2 separate regions of the Homo sapiens genome follow, and region 1 is linked to region 2. The links come from fine-mapping of genetic effects on gene expression. A gene starts in region 2. The other region holds a variant in brackets. All regions are shown on one strand. Distances are from middle to middle.

Region 1 (8,372 bases), 37 kb after region 2:
GACCAACCTGGGCAACATGGAGAAACCCTGTCTCTACAAAAAATATAAAAACTAGCCAAGTGTGGTGGTGTGTGCCTGTGGTCCTAGCTACTAGGGAGGCTGAGGTAGGAGGATCGCTTGAGCCCTAGGGGTGGAGGTTGCAGTGAGCCAACATTGCCACTGCACTCCAGCCTGGGTGACAGAGTGAGACCCTGTCTCAAAAAAAAAAGGAAGAATCTAAAATAACATTATTTTAGGATTGTCAAAGTATCAGTAATTTTTTTTATTTTTGCAAATTTGTGTCATATACTTTAAAACTTCTTGCATTAAAAAATAAAATTGTAAAATGATTATTCTTCCTCATCTTTGAAATCTCCAATTTATTTACTGCACTTAGCATGGAATTTTCTTAGGTCTTGGCAACACATCCCTGTAAAGCCTTCCACCATTTCACCTTCTCTGCATAAGTTATCCTCTTTGTGTATATTTGCCACACATTGAAAATCCTGAATTAGGTACTTCACACTGCCTGGGTTACCTAGCCTTGCTGCCTAAATGTGGTTTGCTTGTGAAATACAAAGATTTTAACACAAATCTAAGCAAAACATAATGTATGATTTAGCTATGAAAAATTGCACTGGCTGGGTCCATTGGCTCATGCTTGCAATCCCAGCACTTTGGGAGGCTGAGGCAGGTGGATTGCTAGATCCCAGGAGTTTGAGACCAGCATGGGCAGCGTGGCAAAACCCCATCTCTACAGAAAATAGAAAAAATTAGATGGGTGTGGTGGTGTGCTCCTGTGGTCCCAGCTACTCAGGAGACTGAGGTGGGAGAATTGTTTGAGGCTAGAAGGTTGAGGCTGCAATGAGCCAAGATTGTGCCACTGCACTCCAACCTGGGTGACAGAGCAAGACTCTGTCTCAATAAAATAAATAAATTAATTAAAATGACATCACTGGCATTTCAAGAGTACTACAGATGATTTTTAAATTGTCTGATGCTTGGCATTAAGTCGCTGCCTTTTATTTATTTATTTTTTGAGACAGAGTCTTGCTCTTTTGCCCAGGCTGGAGTGCAGTGGTGCAATCTTGGCTCACTGCAACCTCCGCCTCCTGGATTCAAGCGATTCTCCTGCCTCAGCCTCCCAAGTAGCTGGGATTACAGACATGCGCCACTGTGCCCAGCTAAATTTTTTGTATTTTTAGTAGAGATGGGGTTTCACCATGTTGGTCAGGCTGGTCTTGAACTCCTGACCTCGTGATCCGCCCACCTTCGCCTCCCAAAGTGCTGGGATTACAGGCCTGAGCCACCGCGCCCGGCCACTGCCTTTTATTTTATCTTGAGAGTGAGAACTGCTATGTTTTTTTTCAGTATGTTCACTTTTTCCTTTTGAATGTCCTGGCTTCCATTCTAAAACTATGTGAGAACCACAGCAATGGTTTAATAAGGGAATGTAGACAGTTGTCTATTACATGAGGTGTTTTGTGGTTGTTATGAGGGATGTACACTGACACTGCCATGTTCCCTGTTCCTTTTAACTAGGAAGGCGGAGCGTGAAGTAAAAGCATTGGCAAAACTTGATCATGTAAATATTGTTCACTACAATGGCTGTTGGGATGGATTTGATTATGATCCTGAGACCAGTGATGATTCTCTTGAGAGCAGTGATTATGATCCTGAGAACAGCAAAAATAGTTCAAGGTAACTAAAAATAAATTCTCATAGCCATAATAGGATGGAAGGAAATTGTTATTTACTATGTATGGGCCACTGGATAAGGCTATTAATCATCACGATTAATTATCACAATTCCCTCTGAGAGACACTGTTATCTCTCCATTCCGAAGGTAAGGAGAAAGTGAAAATCTCTTCCTTGCTCCTCCTCTTGCTGCAGACTTGCTCTCACAACCCTCTGTTACATCCTCAGCTGTCTGCAAAATCTCAGGTTCAGCTTTCCTGACTCCATTGTTTCATGGAGAGCCTTGTTCACGTGCCGGCTTCAGCGCAGGCTGTTTAAGTGTAGTCTTGTGAAGAGAGTTTTAACATATAGATGCTGCATCTGGGGGCTCCCTCCTCAGCTACCAACACTTTTCTGTCCCTCTCTTAGGCTGTGATTGGTGTGGTGCCGTCAGAGGGTCTCTTTGGAATGTAACTATACCACTTATGCTGGGGTGGTGGGGAGTGAAAATATTTTTAAGACCACAAGCTGAGATGGGGGCACCCTCATGTTTTATGTCAGTTAAGCCATTGCCAAACAACTGGAGATCCTAAAGAGCTGGCATCTGTCTTTGAAAGTCACCCAACCTATTATGGGGACAGTCCTCTCACTAAAATCCTGAGGCCAATGGGGTCCCATTCATTCATTTTCTCCTGCCCCACCTCCATCTCCATGTCGTGTAAGTGAGAACATTATCATCAGTTCAGGAGTTATTGACCGTCAGCATACAGGACTTCAGCTTTCAGCAAATTCTTGGCTACCTCTTCCTGTTTTCAAGCTGACATATATACAAAGAATATAAATGAATATTGAGGCTAACTTAATTCAGAAAAAAAATAAAACGTGGTTAGCAAAAAAAAAAAAAAAAAAAATCAAGCCTCCAATTTATGTATCTTAGTAATTTGTTGGCACTTCTCTTAGAGTACCTTCCCTATTGTTTTAGGTTTGCTTTCCCTTTACTCTCTCCTATTAGACTATTATCCCCGTGACGGCAAGGATATAGTGTCTAACTGATTTTCTCATCTCTAGGTGCCTTTCATGCTTAGTAGATCAATGGTGAATTAAAAGGTTTCAAAGTTACTTTATATAATAATGAAATTTAGTTTCCTGCATTGTATTCATGTTCCTATTTCTATCTGTTAGCAATGGTGATTGCAGATCTTCAGCAATGAAGAATGGGTGGCTCATTTTTTTTTTCTTCTCGTTTTTTTTTTTTTTTTTTTTTTTGAGACGGTGTCTCGCACTGTCGCACAGGCTGGAGTGCAGTGGTGCAATCTTGGCTCACTGCAAGCTCTGCCTCCCGGATTCACAGTATTCTCCTGCCTCAGTCTCCTGAGTAGCTGGGACTACAGGCGCCCGCCACCACGCCCGGCTAATTTTTTGTATTTTTAGTAGAGACGGGATTTCACCGTGTTAGCCAGGATGGTCTTGATCTCCTGACCTCGTGATCCACCCGCCTCGGCCTCCCAAAGTGCTGGGATTACATGCGTGAGCCACCGCGCCCGGCCTCTTCTTTTTTTTTTTTTGAGACAGAGTCTTACTCTATCGCTCATGCGGGAGCACAATGGCGTGATCTCAGCTTACTGCAATCTCTGCCTTCTGGGTTCAAATGATTCTCGTGCCTCATCCTCCCGAGTAGCTGAGACTACAGGTGCCGCGCCACCACACCCAGCTAATTTTTGTGTTTTTAGTAGAGATGGGGTTTCGCCATGCTGCCCAGGCTGGTCTCAAACTCCTGAGCTCAAGCAATCCGCCAGTCTCGGCCTCCCAAGGTGCTAGGATTATAGGCGTGAGCCACCGTGCCCAGCCCAGCTCATATTTTATAAATTAGCTAAACAAATAAAGCTCTGGACATCCGGGAACTTATGATTGAAATAAAAAATGGCCTATTATATTTTGATTCAAATTTGTTTATTATATTTAGATTTCTATTTTGTGACATGTTTTGGGGTTCTTTTTTTTTCTTTTTTTTTTTTTTTTTGTGAGACGGAATCTCGCTCTGTCACCCAGGCTGGAGTGCAGTGGCGTGATCTCGGCTCACTGCAAGCTCCGCCTACCGGGTTCACGCCATTCTCTTGCCTCAGCCTCCCCGGAGTAGCTGGG[A/G]CTACAGGCGCCCGCCACCACGCCTGGCTAATTTTTTGTATTTTTAGTAGAGACGGGGTTTCACCGTGGTCTCGATCTCCTGACCTCGTGATCCGCCCGCCTCGGCCTCCCAAAGTGTTTTTGGGGTTCTTAAGAAGATAAGGTATAAGCTTTTAAAAAGTTATGAAAAACTTTAAAAAGTTATAAAAAATTTTTTATAAATTTATATTTATTGTTACTTTTAACATACTGTGAATTTTATACCCAGGTCAAAGACTAAGTGCCTTTTCATCCAAATGGAATTCTGTGATAAAGGGACCTTGGAACAATGGATTGAAAAAAGAAGAGGCGAGAAACTAGACAAAGTTTTGGCTTTGGAACTCTTTGAACAAATAACAAAAGGGGTGGATTATATACATTCAAAAAAATTAATTCATAGAGATCTTAAGGTAAGTGGAAAATGTACTTTATTAATTGATATATATATAATATAGTAATTTTAAAATATATCTTCTCAGCTGGGCACAGTGGCTCACGCCTATAATCTCAACACTTTGGGAGGCTGAGGCAGGCAGATCATCTGAGGTCATGAGTTCGAAACCAGTCTGGCCAACATGGTGAAACCGTGTCTCTACTAAAAATACAAAAATTAGCTGGGCATGGTGGCGTGCGCCTGTAATCCCAGCTACTCGGGAGGCTGAGGCAGGAGATTCGCTTGAACCTGGGAGGTGGAGGTTGCAGTGAGCCAAGATTGTGCCACTGCACTCCAGCCTAGGTGAAGAGTGAGACTTGTCTCAAAAAAAAAAATTATATATATATATAAAATAAGATAGATAGATATATATTTTTTTCTCTAGTTTTAGAATAGTGGTTGATTGATAGTTATGAGAAAATGGTATCTGAACATTTCCATGCAAATAATTACTGTGACTGGCACAGCCAACTGGCTGCTCTGCCCCTGTTCCTCCTGCCTCCTCTAAGTGACTCAGCTTTATTTGAGAGGCAGAGGGGACTCTGTTGACTGTTGCTTTAGGAATATGGTTCCCTAATCTCTCAGTCATTACTCGCGAGGGCTGTCACAGCTACTGGGTCCAGAGTCTAATACTGTCTTGGTTAAGCATTTCAACCCCATGATTGGAAAATTGCGGTAATCCCGGACTGGGAAAGTGTATCATCCCTTAGTATTTTCATTTTCCTCTGGCTTTTATGGTCCGGACAAGGAGTTTCCCTATTTTTTACTTCTCATTAAAATGACAGAAGGTGAGAGACAGAATAGCCCTTCACAGCCTTTCCTCCATTCCCTATTCCCTGTGACTTGCCTAAGCCTGTCACAAGCTGGCCGTCCTGAATCCTGTCCCTGGACCTTTGCTCATGTTCTTCTCTCTCATGGGACACTCTTCTGCCTGCCCCCTTTGGTTGTAATTCCTTTACTGAGCCTTTCCTGATCACTCTGGAACTGCCTTTTTCTGTTCTAGGCAGAAGTACCTTATTTATGTGGCTATCTGCTTATCCCACCCCTCTAAAACAGCAAGGAATAAGGAATGAAACAAAAAAATTCCTTGAGAGAAATAAGTTCCCATATACACAGTTGTTTATTGGGCTCAGAGAGGAATGAGTAGCCCTTAAAAGGTATTGCTTCCGTGGTCTGCCCAGGGGCTGGATGTCTGATGCATTGGTGTTTTGAGTCTGTCTGGTTCCAATATGTCTCTTCTACAATATCTGAAGTTGTTCTTTGAAGGTGGAACATTGTCAGAACTATTTCAAAAGGATAAATGTAGAGTTGGTTATGCTTTCACTTTGGGATAAATCATACATATAGTTAAATAACAAATAAGCACAATTATTTCTATATAAAATAATTTGCAAATAAATGCAGAAGTGTAGGCATTAAGCTCCTAGTCCTCAGAATGAATTAGCAAAATTCTGACTGGTGCCTACCCACTTACCTGCCAACTATGCCCCACACCGTGTGTGCCCTGTGTCATGGACTGATCTTTTCTTGTGTCTATTTGCAGAGAATTTTTACTCTGGCTGCAGTTGCTCAAGGGTCAGACTTTATTATTCTTCTTAAATTTTTAATTTTTATTTTTTTTTGAGACAAGGTCTTGCTCTTTTGCCCAGGCTGGAGTGCAGTGGCACAATCACGGCTCATTACAGCCTTGACCTCCTGGGCTCAAGCAGTCCTCCCACCTCAGCCTCCCGTATAGCTGGGACCACAGGTGTACACCACCACACCTGGCCATTTTTGTGTGTTTTTTTTTTGTAGAGACAGGGTCTCACCATGTTTCCGAGGCTGGTCTCAAACTTTTAGACTCAAAGTGATCCTCCTGCCTCAGCCTCCCAAAGTGCTGGCATTCCAGGTGTGCTCCACTGCACCCGGCCTCAAGCTTTGATACTGAGACTTCTTTCATCTTCTATAACTTTTCAGGCTCTCACTACTACAGTTGTTGATTTCTCTCCTCTAAGAAAAGATACAATGAAGGTGTACAATTTTGGGGTTGTGTTTTGCAAAATAGCAGCTGTAGGTGGTTTTGCCAGAGAATGGTCTTTACCTAACACAGCCCCTCTTACAAAAGTCTCCAAGTGTTTACCACTTTCTGTTGGAATCTTAGGAACTAGACCAAAGGCGCTGGGAAGGGACATAGGGGTTTCTGGAGTGAGGGCTTCTTGTGCAAGGCTGCTTCTCTCTAAAATGTTCAGTCTCCTAAAGCCCAGGCTCTGGTCATCCTCAGCCTGAGCATCAGTCCTGTTCCTGTGCCTCCTAGGTGAAGTTTGCATCCCTTTTATATGATCTACAGCCCTATATTTTGTCTAATCATATTATAACTGATTAGACAAAATGTGGCATTATTGTTTTTATTTCTTTTGTGTTTTACAAGGTCTCACTCTGTTGCCCAGGCTGGAGTGCAGTTGTATGATCTCAGCTCACTGCAGCCTGGACCTCCTAGGCTCAAGCAATCCTCCCACCTCGGCCCCCCACATAGCTGGGACTACAGGTGCAGGCTACCAAGGCAGGCTAATTTTTGACATTTTGTGGAGACAGGATTTTGCCATGTTGCCCTGGTTGGTCTCGAACTCCTGAGCTCAAGTGATCTGCCGACCTTGGCTTCCCAAAGTGTTGGGATTACAGGCATGAGCCACCATACCCAGCTTCTTTTTCTTTTCTTTTTTTCTTTTTTCTTTTTTTTTTTTTTTTGAGACAGAGTCTCCTCTGTTGCCCAGGCTGGAGTGCAGTGGAGTGATCTCGGCTCACTGCAGCCTCTGACTCCTGGGTTCACGAGATTCTCCTGCGTCAGCCTCTCGAGTATCTGGGATTACAGGCGCCTGCCATGATGCCCAGATAATTTTTTGTATTTTTAGTAGAGACAGGGTTTCACCATGTTGGCAAGGTTGGCCTTGGACTGATGGGCCCACGCTGTCTGCCCGCTTCAGCCTCCCAAAGTGCTGGGATTACAGGTGTGACTCACCACGCCCTGCCCACTTTTTCTTTTGAATGAACTACAAAAAGTGATCTGATATTTTCACTAGATAGCCTCATCCAGCTTAGATATTTACACGGCTTCACAAATTCAATTTTCTGTTTCTTAGAGTCAGGTGATAGCCTTATGTGGGACTAGCAGTTTCACTTGCAATCCTGACATATTCCTACACATTGCAACTTGAACATAGCATAGGAATGTTTTCTCTCCACATCCACTCCACATCTGTCTACAGCTTTCCATCTGTATTACTGGTGTTAGGCTCCAATCTGACTGTTAATTGAATTCTAATCCAACTGCTAATTGCTGTATGAGCCGTCATCTCAAGCTGGCTTCTCGGAAGCTCCTCCTTCAGCCTTCCCTGGGCTTATGGTCTCTTCCCTCTTAGGTCCTTACTAGGTAGGCCCTCTCATAAGTGTGTTATCCCGTAGAGTCTGTGTGTTTAGCCTAAGATTGTATTAAAAGTCCAGCCTTTTCAAAAATAGCAAAATATTAATTTTCTCATCAACTACCTTCCTGTTTTTGTGGTCTTTAGAATATTGGTCAGTAGAGCTGGGTGTGGTGGCCTGTGGTCCCAGCTACTTGGGAGGCTGAGGTGGGAGGATCGCTTGAGCTGAGGAAGTCAAGGCTGCAGTGAGCCATGATCATGCCACTGAAATCCATCCTGGATAACAAAATGAGACACTGTCTCAAAAACAAACAAAAATAATATTGGTCAATACCTCCTATGGGCTGGGCGTGGTGGCTCATGCCTGTAACCTCAGCACTTTGGGAGGCTGAGGTGAGCAGATTGCTTGAGGTCAGGAGTTTGAGACCAATCTGGCCAACATGGTGAAAATCTGTCTCTACTAAAAATACAAAAAAATTAGCCAAGCGTTGTGGCACATGCCTGTAATCCCAGCTCCTCGGGAGGCTGAGGCAGGAGAATTGCTTGAACCCAGGAAGCAGAGGTTGTGGTGAGCCGAGATCATGCCACTACACTCCATCCTGGGTGACAGAGCGAGGCTCCATCTTACAAAACAAAACAAAACAAAACACCTCCCTTAAAAAAAAAAAATCTGCTTAAAGAATTGCATGGATAAAAATATTTCAGAGCTAGTTATTAGCTTCCAGTT
Region 2 (8,372 bases):
CACAAACATTCAGACCATAGCGATGATTTTATAATAATGTGCATGTGGGGACTATTGACAAGAAGAGTTTATAAGTAAGCAAGACAAATTACTAAAGCAGAAACATCTGAGGAAAAGAGCCACAAGAGATATGGTACAACATAAATATGGACCACTCTACAATTTCCAAAAGCAGGAATAACAGTTATTATTTTTCCTCTGCTAGTAAAAAGAGAATTAAGAATAATTGATACATACGATTCTTCTATCTGTGTCTGATTCGTTGCTTTAGCATTACACATTTTGATCTAAAAGTCACTGTATTAAAAGAGATAGACTTATGGGATTGACTATAGGTCAATAACCATACTGATATTCACAAAGAGTTACGTAGTAAGGCCTGAGAAGCCCATGTGGATAAACTCACACATATCCTCCATTCCTGCTGTCACAGCCTCTTTATTTGTTGAAACAAGCACAGGGATAGCTGGGGAAAAGGCTAACAGAAGTCTTCTTGCTCAACTGCTTCTCAAAAGCCTCTTTAGAAGTGGTTGCCTTTGGTGAACATTCAAAAGGGAGCCCAATATGCACACTCTGCCCATTCGAAGTGGTTCAAGCACATCATTTCCCTAGACCTCATCATCAGCCCTCTGATATCATTCCTTCCAACTCTCTGAACATCAGCTGCATTGCCAGCCACTGGCTCTGTATAAGCCACTGAAGGAGGGGACTTTGGATCTTCTTGGGGTCCATGGTTAGGAAGTAAGTGACTAGGTTGCATAAGATGAATCTACTCCAATATTCCTGACTCCCTAAGTATTTTTGATTTCTTCATCTGCATTACTTGGCATTACATTTACATTTAGTGTGAGCTGCCACTGAGCTGATATTATAGTAAACCAACTGGGCAAACTGGCTTAGCGCTCCCACTGCTAGAGGCAGTACATCAACTTTCTTTCTTTTTTTTTTTTTTTTCTTGCTCTGTTGCCAGGCTGGAGTGCAGTGGCACGATCTTGGCTCATTGCAACCCCGACTCCCTGGTTCAAGCGATTCTCCTGCCTCAGCCTCCCAAGTAGCTGGGATTACAGGCACATGCCACCACGCCCAGCTAATTTTTGTATTTTTAGTAGAGACGTGGTTTCACCATGTTGGCCAGGATGGTCTCAATCTCCTGACCTCATGATCCGCCCACCTCGGCCTCCCAAAGTGCTGGGATTACAAGCATGAGCCACCGCGCTCAGCCTCAACTTTCAGCTTTCTTCACGTCATCTTTAGACTCATTGCCATGTCTATTTCTTGCTTTCTGTTGCTCTTTTGTTGTGTAAAGCATCACCCCTCCATCAGATCTTGTCCATATCCTCTTGGGGCGCATTAGCATCTGATTCTAGTTCTAGGAGTGAAGGCACAGGTAGAGATAGGATATTTGGAGAATCAGCACCTCCTTGCAGGGTGACTGTTTCATGCTTTTTAATGTAGGCTGTACCAGCCTTATCAGACAATGGTGGGAAGCCTGTGGAGACACAGCAGAATTTAGGAGGGCAGTGGCACTTGGATTCATTCAAATCCACCCAAATTCCCAGGGCTTCTTTCTTTCACAATCAATGCCCTCAGTGTTCACAGAAGAGACCTGATGAGGCTGCAAATGAAAATTTTTGTTGTAATTCTAGGCTGGGCGCGGTGGATCACGCCTGTAATCTCAGTACTTTGGAAGGCCGAGGTGGGGGAATCACTTGAGGTTAGGAGTTCCAAACCAGGCTGGCCAATATGGTGAAACCCCTTCTCTACTAAAAATACAAAAATTAGCTAGGTGCGGTGGCACACGCCTGTAATCCCAGTTACTTGGCAGGCTGAGGCAGGGAAATTGCTTGAGCCCGGGAGCCAGAGGTTGTAGTGAGCCAAGATTGTGCCACTGCACTCCAGCCTCGGCAACACAGCAAGACTCTGTCTCAAAACAATTATATTGTAATTCTGGTGCCTGCAGCACCAAGCTTTGCAGCTGAGAGCCCAGACAGTAGGGAATTGGGCTCCTCAGGGAGTCCAATATGCTCACACTTTACCCATTCCAAGAGGTTCACCCATATCATATCATTCCCCTGGACCTCATCACCAACCCTCTGATATCATTCCTTCCAAATCTTTCCCCAGCAGAGAAGGCAGATTTTTACATCACCCCTGAGGCTCCCTGAAATAGGAGGGTTTTCTGGTACAGTCATAAAAGCGTGTGTCCTCTGATCATGCTTAAGCTTGCCATTTTTCATTCTTTAAGCTCTCTTGGGCAGTTCAGGGGCTCAAAAAGTCAGAAAAACTTGTCCTTGCTACTGCCATTGCTGCTGCCACAGCCATCCCACACCCACAAAGCTGACAAATGGACACACAGCACTGTCAGAGTTTTCTTGTCACCTGGAAATGCCACAAAAAGATGGCTCTGCCTCATGTCTACCTTCTAAACCTCCCGCCAGTGCTTTACATATAGGGGACTTAAGCTATGCCCAGGACCAGAGCTACAAGGAAAGTGTAGATTTTAGTTGTTGATACCCTGCAATGTGGGGTTGTTGGGGGATGGAGAAGGGAGGCTGGAGAGGATGCCTGCCTAGGTGTAATTTTTTTTTTTTTTTTTTGAATTGGAGTCCCACTCTGTCACCCAGGCTGGAGTGTAGTGGCATGATCTCAGCTCACTACAATCTCTGCCTCCCAGGTTCAAGCAATTCTCCCTGCCTCAGCCTCTGGAGTAGCTGGGATTACAGGTGCCTGCCACCACGCCCAGCTAATTTTTGTGTTTTTTAGTAGAGACGGGGTTTTGCCATGTTGGCCAGGCTGGTCCTGAACTCCTGACCTCAGGTGATCCGCCCGTCTCAGCCTCCCAAATTTCTGGGATTACAGGCATGAGCCACCGCGCCGGCCTAGGCATAATATTTAATGTATATTTGAGGTCTGTCTTTGGACCACCTTCCTCTCTTATCCCAGCTAAGATACTGAGAGTACAAACTCCTGGTTATAATTCTAACTCCGCTGCTTACTACCTGTGTTAATCCAAATTCTCTGTGCCTCAATACTCATTAGTCACTGTGCCAATGAACTCTGGAACTCTGTGTGACTCTGGGAGTGTGTCGCAGTCCATCAGGTGAGTAGAATTTCTATAAATCGAGGACTACTGGTGTTGGACTATGGTAGGAAGCTCCCTGGGGTACTGTAGGAAGCAGGTGTCTCTATTTAGCAGCAGGACTGGCCCACAGGTGCTTTTACAGCGGCTGGCAAGTGTCTGCTCATGAATGAATGGATGGGTGGGAGCGGAGTGAAGGAGATTACGCCCCCAGGCCTCTGATCCCCAGGCTTGTAAAGGTGAGGGGGCCGCGGTGTGGCAAGAGGGAAAGAGTGCTTTGGTGTTTACAGGCCCCGACTTGAACTGAATCCTGGCTTTGCCACTTACGAGCGGCAGGACCCCTGGGTGAGTTCATTTACTCAGTTTCCTCTATTGTAGAATGGAGCTGGTAAGATCCATCTTCCCAACCCCACCCCAAATATTTGTGTTGAGAGTAAGTGGAACCCTTGATTCGAGAACCTAGTGCGGCCAGCGGACTAGGCCAGCGGAGAACCCTAGGAGCCCCGGGGGCGGGGGATGGGGGTGCAGGGTCCTGGCCGTGCAGGGGCAGCACGTGGGTGCCAAGCCCGCCTGCCGGTGCCAAGCCCGCCCGCCGGTGCCAAGCCCGCCCGCCAGTGCCTCTCGCGCGCACTCTGGATCCAGCGCCAATTTACCCCAATCCCGTAGCAGACGAGGGCTTGTGCGAGAGGGGGCCGGGCGGCTGCAGGGAAGGCGGAGTCCAAGGGGAAAACGAAACTGAGAACCAGCTCTCCCGAAGCCGCGGGTCTCCGGCCGGCGGCGGCGGCGGCGGCGGCGGCGGCGCAGGTGAGCAGGGCAGGGGGCAGCCGAGGGAGCGCGGGGAGCGGGGGCCGGGGGGCCACGTACGAGGGGCTGCAGGCCCAGCCGGGGCGGGACTCGCCAATCCTGCGTCCCCAGCTCAGGACGCGGACGCTGATCCGAAGCCCCTGGCCCCGGCTGGGTCAGCACTGGGAGAGCAGGCCCAGGTCCGCAGCCCGGGTGTGGGGCCCTCCCCAAATCCAGGGAAAGGATCGTGGAGCGGGGTGGGGACTGAAAGCCATTTCCTTCCCGTGAAGAATTTTTATCAGTGCAAGTAACAAATATTTCCCAGGCAGCAGTTGTGGGGCGGGGTCTAGTGGAAGACGAATAGGCCTAGTGGCTTGACACATGGAAAATACGGAGGCCTGAAATACTCATAGACTGGCTGAACAATCTTTGGCTAAAAATCTCTTCCGTGGAGAGTTGCAGTAGTTTCCCAATTGCCTGGCCGCAGTTCCTGTTCCCACTCCGTATCCTCACCCCTGAACCTCCACCCCCTACCTCTTCTCCACACCTCAGCATCTGGAATGTTCCTTTAAGTAAGAACCAGACTCTCCCCTGCTCCGACCTTCCCCGTAGCTTTCCTGTCTCATCAGAATCCTATAAACATTTATTAAGGCTCACAGGCAAGGCCCCTCGCACCCCCTACTCCGGCCACGCTGGCTTCCTTGCTGTTCCTGGTGCACAGCCAAGCATCCTCCAGCCTCTAGGCCTTTGCACTGCTTGTTTCTTCTTTCTGGAAAGCTTCTTCCCCAGATAACTGCATGGGGAAATCCCTCCCTTATCCTGCACTGCTTCCCATGCCAGCTTATCAGAGCAGCCTTCCTCAAACAACCTGCCTATACAAGAAACCCCGCTCTGCCCTTGCTGTTCCCCCTTCCACTACTTCGGTTGTCAACATAGTAGTTATCACCTGGTGACATTTTCTTTCTTTTCTTTTCTTTTTTTTTTTTTTTGAGACAGATTCTCACTCTGTCGCCAGGCTGGAATGCAGTGGCACGATCTGGGCTCACTGCAACCTCTGCCTCTCAGGTTCAAGCGATTTTCCTTCCTCAGCCTCCCAGGTAGCTGGGACTACAGGTGCCCGCCAGCACAGCCAACTAATTTTTTTATTTTTAGTAGAGACAGGGTTTCACCGTGTTGGCCAGGCTGTATGTAGTCTGCTGGAAAGGAAGTGGAGGCATAGCCAAAATAATTTCTGGGCATTAGTAAGATGGACAAATATTATTTTTTAGTGATTATGATGGAGGTTTCTTCCAGATGAGTGAATAAGATGTAGAATCTGCTCCCCAAAGAGCTCACTAATTAGTTTAAAAAGCAGTCAGGGCTGTGTTGAAGGTTGGGCAAGGTGGAGTGGCAAGCCCATACTAGCTGACCCTCCAGCATCAAAGAAGGCTGTGTTGATCCTGATAGATGAGTGGATATTGGTGGGTACAGAGAGAATGCAGATATTGCACTATAAATGTAGAGAAAAGCAGGTGACAAGTCCTGGATGGGGTATCTGGAGATATTTTGGTACTCACTCATTCATTATTGAGCCTGGTCCCTTACCTGTAGTAATTCATGCTCTATTTTGGAAAATAGTTAAATAAGCAATTTTAATAAAGGGGATGAGCACTGTGGAAGAGCCTGTGAAGGAGTGTCTGGGATTTTGAGCTGAAATCTGTAGGAAGTAGAAATTGACCAGGCCAAGACAGCAGAAGGAATAGAGTCAAGGGCATTTTAGGAGGGAGCAGGTTGGACAGAGGCAGTTGGGAGTTCAGGAGAGAGTCCATGGTGGAAGCGTGCTTTTGAGAACCATCATTGTGTCCGTGGAATTTAAAGCCACAAACCTGGAGGTGATCACCAGGGGAGTGAGTCCAAGTAGAAAAGAGCAAGTCTAAGGACCGGGCCCAGTGATGCTAGAATATCTAGAAAAGAGGAAGTTAGAACCATAGAAAAGGTTAAAAAAAAAAAAATAGAAGAAAAGAAGTTGAAGATGAACCAGGAAAGGAGACAGAAAAGGAGTAGCTTGTCAGAACAGAAGAAAACCAGGCCCAGGTGCCATGGCTCATGCCTGTAATCGCAGCACTTTGGGAGGCCAAGGTGGGTGGATCACCTGAGGTCAGGAGTTTGAGACCAGCCTGGCCAACATGGGGAAACCCCGTCTCTACTAAAAATATAAAAAATTAGCCGGGCGTGGTGGTGGGCGCCTGTAATCCCAGCTACTCGGAATGCTGAGGCAGGAGAATCGCTTGAACCCGGGAGGCAGAGGTTGCAGCGAGCCGAGATGCCACCATCACACTCCAGCCTGGGCAACAAGAGCGAAACTCTGTCTCAAAAGAAGAAAACTAGGAGAGTGGGTGTCTTAAAAGTCCAAGCTAAGACAGGGAGAGGAGGGCGAAGAGGATGCGCAACCCCATCAAATGCTGGTTGTAAGTCAAGTAGAGAAGGACTAAGAACTGACTACTGGATTTAGTGATAGGGAAGCCATTGGTAACCTCGACAAAAACAATTTCAGTGGCTTGTGGAGACTGCATGATTGAATTGATGTTTTTTTGTTTGTTTGTTTTGTTTTTGTTTTTTTTTTTGAGACGGAGTTTCGCTCTTGTTGCCCAGGCTGGAGTGCAATGGCACGATCTCAGCTCACCGCAACCTCCACCTCCTGGGTTCAAGCGATTCTCCTTCCTCAGCATCCCGAGTAGCTGGGATTACAGGCATGTGCCACCACCCCGGCTAATTTTGTATTTTTAGTAGAGATGGGGTTTCTCCATGTTGGTCAGGCTGGTCTTGAAGTCCCGACCTCAGGTGATCTGCCCGCCTTGGCCTCCCAAAGTGCTGGGATTACAGGTGTGAGCCACCGCGCCTGGCCACTGAATTGATGTTTTAAAAAGATCATGATGTGGCTGTATTAAAAAAGAAAACAGATAATAACAAGTGATGGTGAGGATGTGGAGAAATTAGAACCCTCGTGCATTGCTGGTGGAAATGTAACATGGGTGTAACCACTGTGGAAAACAATTTGGTGATTCATCACAAAGTTAAACAGAATTATCATGTGATTCAATTCCACTTATATACCACAAATATTCAGAAGTAGGGACTTAAACAGATATATGTATACCAGTGTTCACAGCAGCATGATTCAAGATGGCCAAAAGGTTGAAATAACCAGTGTCCATTCATAAATGAATGCATGAACAAAATATGGTATATATACACAACGGAATATTATTCAGCCTTAAAAAGGAAAGGAATTCTGACATATGCTACAACATAGATGAACCTTGAAGACATTTTGCTAAGTGAAATAACCAGACACAAAAGGACAAATACTGTTTGATTCCACTTATATGAGGTACCTAGAACAGGCAAATTTACAGAGACAGAAGAGAGATTAGAAAATATAAAAAATTAACCAGGCATGCCCACGCCTATGGTCCCAGCTACTCGGGAGGCTGAGGTGGGAGGATCGCTTGAGCCCAGAGTTCAAGGCTGCAGTAAGCTGTGATCACACCACTGCACTCCAGCCTGGGCAACAGAGCGAGACCCTGTCTCAAAAAAAAAAAAAAAAAAAAAGATTAGCAGAGACTGAAAGGACTGGGAAATGGGGAGTTACTGTTTAATGGGTACACACTTTCTGTTTGGAAAGATTAAGAGTTGTGGATGTGGATGTGGTGGCGGCTACACAACATTGTGAATGTACTTAAAGGCAGGGAATTAATACATTGAAAAATAGTACATTTCATGTTATGTGTATTTTATCACAATTTTAAAACATAAAAAAAAAAATCACAATGGTTGCAGGGTAGAGAAGGAATTGAAGTAGCTGTCGGAACTGGTTCTGAGATTCTCACAGCAATCCAGGAATGAGGTGGTGTTGGCTTGAACTAGGATGGTAAGTGTAGACATCTTTGAGAAGTAGAAAGATTTTGGTGACAGGACTTAGTTATAGATTAGAAGGCAGGGAGAGGAAATGTCAAGGATGCCTCCCAGATTGATGGCTTTCAGACTTGGATAGATGGTGGACTCATTTCCTGTGAAAGGAAACTTCAAACCAGCTTGGGAGAAGATCATACATGCAGTACAGGATATTTTGAGTTTAAAGTTCGTTCAAGATGTTCAAGTGGAGAATTTGGATAGAGAGATCTGAAACTCAGAGCGGTTCATAAGGAATATGTAAACTTTAGAGGTAATGGCGTATAGATGATCACTGAAATCATGGACGTGAAAGAAATCACCTTAAGGAGAAAGTATAGAGTGAAGAGAAGAGGATTGTTGGGCCATGCCAGCATTTAGAGCTACAAAGATTAAGGTGTGTTAAAAAGAGTGGCCCGGCCAGGCGTGGTGGCCCACACCTGTAATCCCAGCACTTTGGGAGGCTGAGGCTGGTGGATCACTGGAGTTCAGGAGTTGGAGACCAGCCTGGCCAACACCGGGAAACCTCAAAAATACAAAAATTAGCTGGGCGTGGTGGTGGGCACCTGTAGTCCCATAG

Evidence for each region. PIP is the estimated chance that this variant, and not a neighbour inherited with it, causes the effect.
Region 1: its variant is fine-mapped to the expression of EIF2AK2 in whole blood (TOPMed, PIP 0.94).

What each region holds. Positions count from the first base shown.
Region 1 is chr2:37,115,814-37,124,185 of GRCh38, reverse strand. EIF2AK2 (eukaryotic translation initiation factor 2 alpha kinase 2) reads left to right here. Exons shown (of 17, transcript NM_001135651.3): 12 at 1,522-1,680; 13 at 4,047-4,227. Among named protein-coding and RNA genes, the nearest start is that of GPATCH11, 35 kb to the right of the region's middle. The variant A/G (reference allele first, on the strand shown) is at 3,800.
Region 2 is chr2:37,152,419-37,160,790 of GRCh38, reverse strand. It overlaps EIF2AK2 (eukaryotic translation initiation factor 2 alpha kinase 2), which reads left to right and starts at 3,811. Exons shown (of 17, transcript NM_001135651.3): 1 at 3,811-3,883. RefSeq lists silencers at 3,512-3,701, 3,902-4,021 and an enhancer at 3,752-3,881.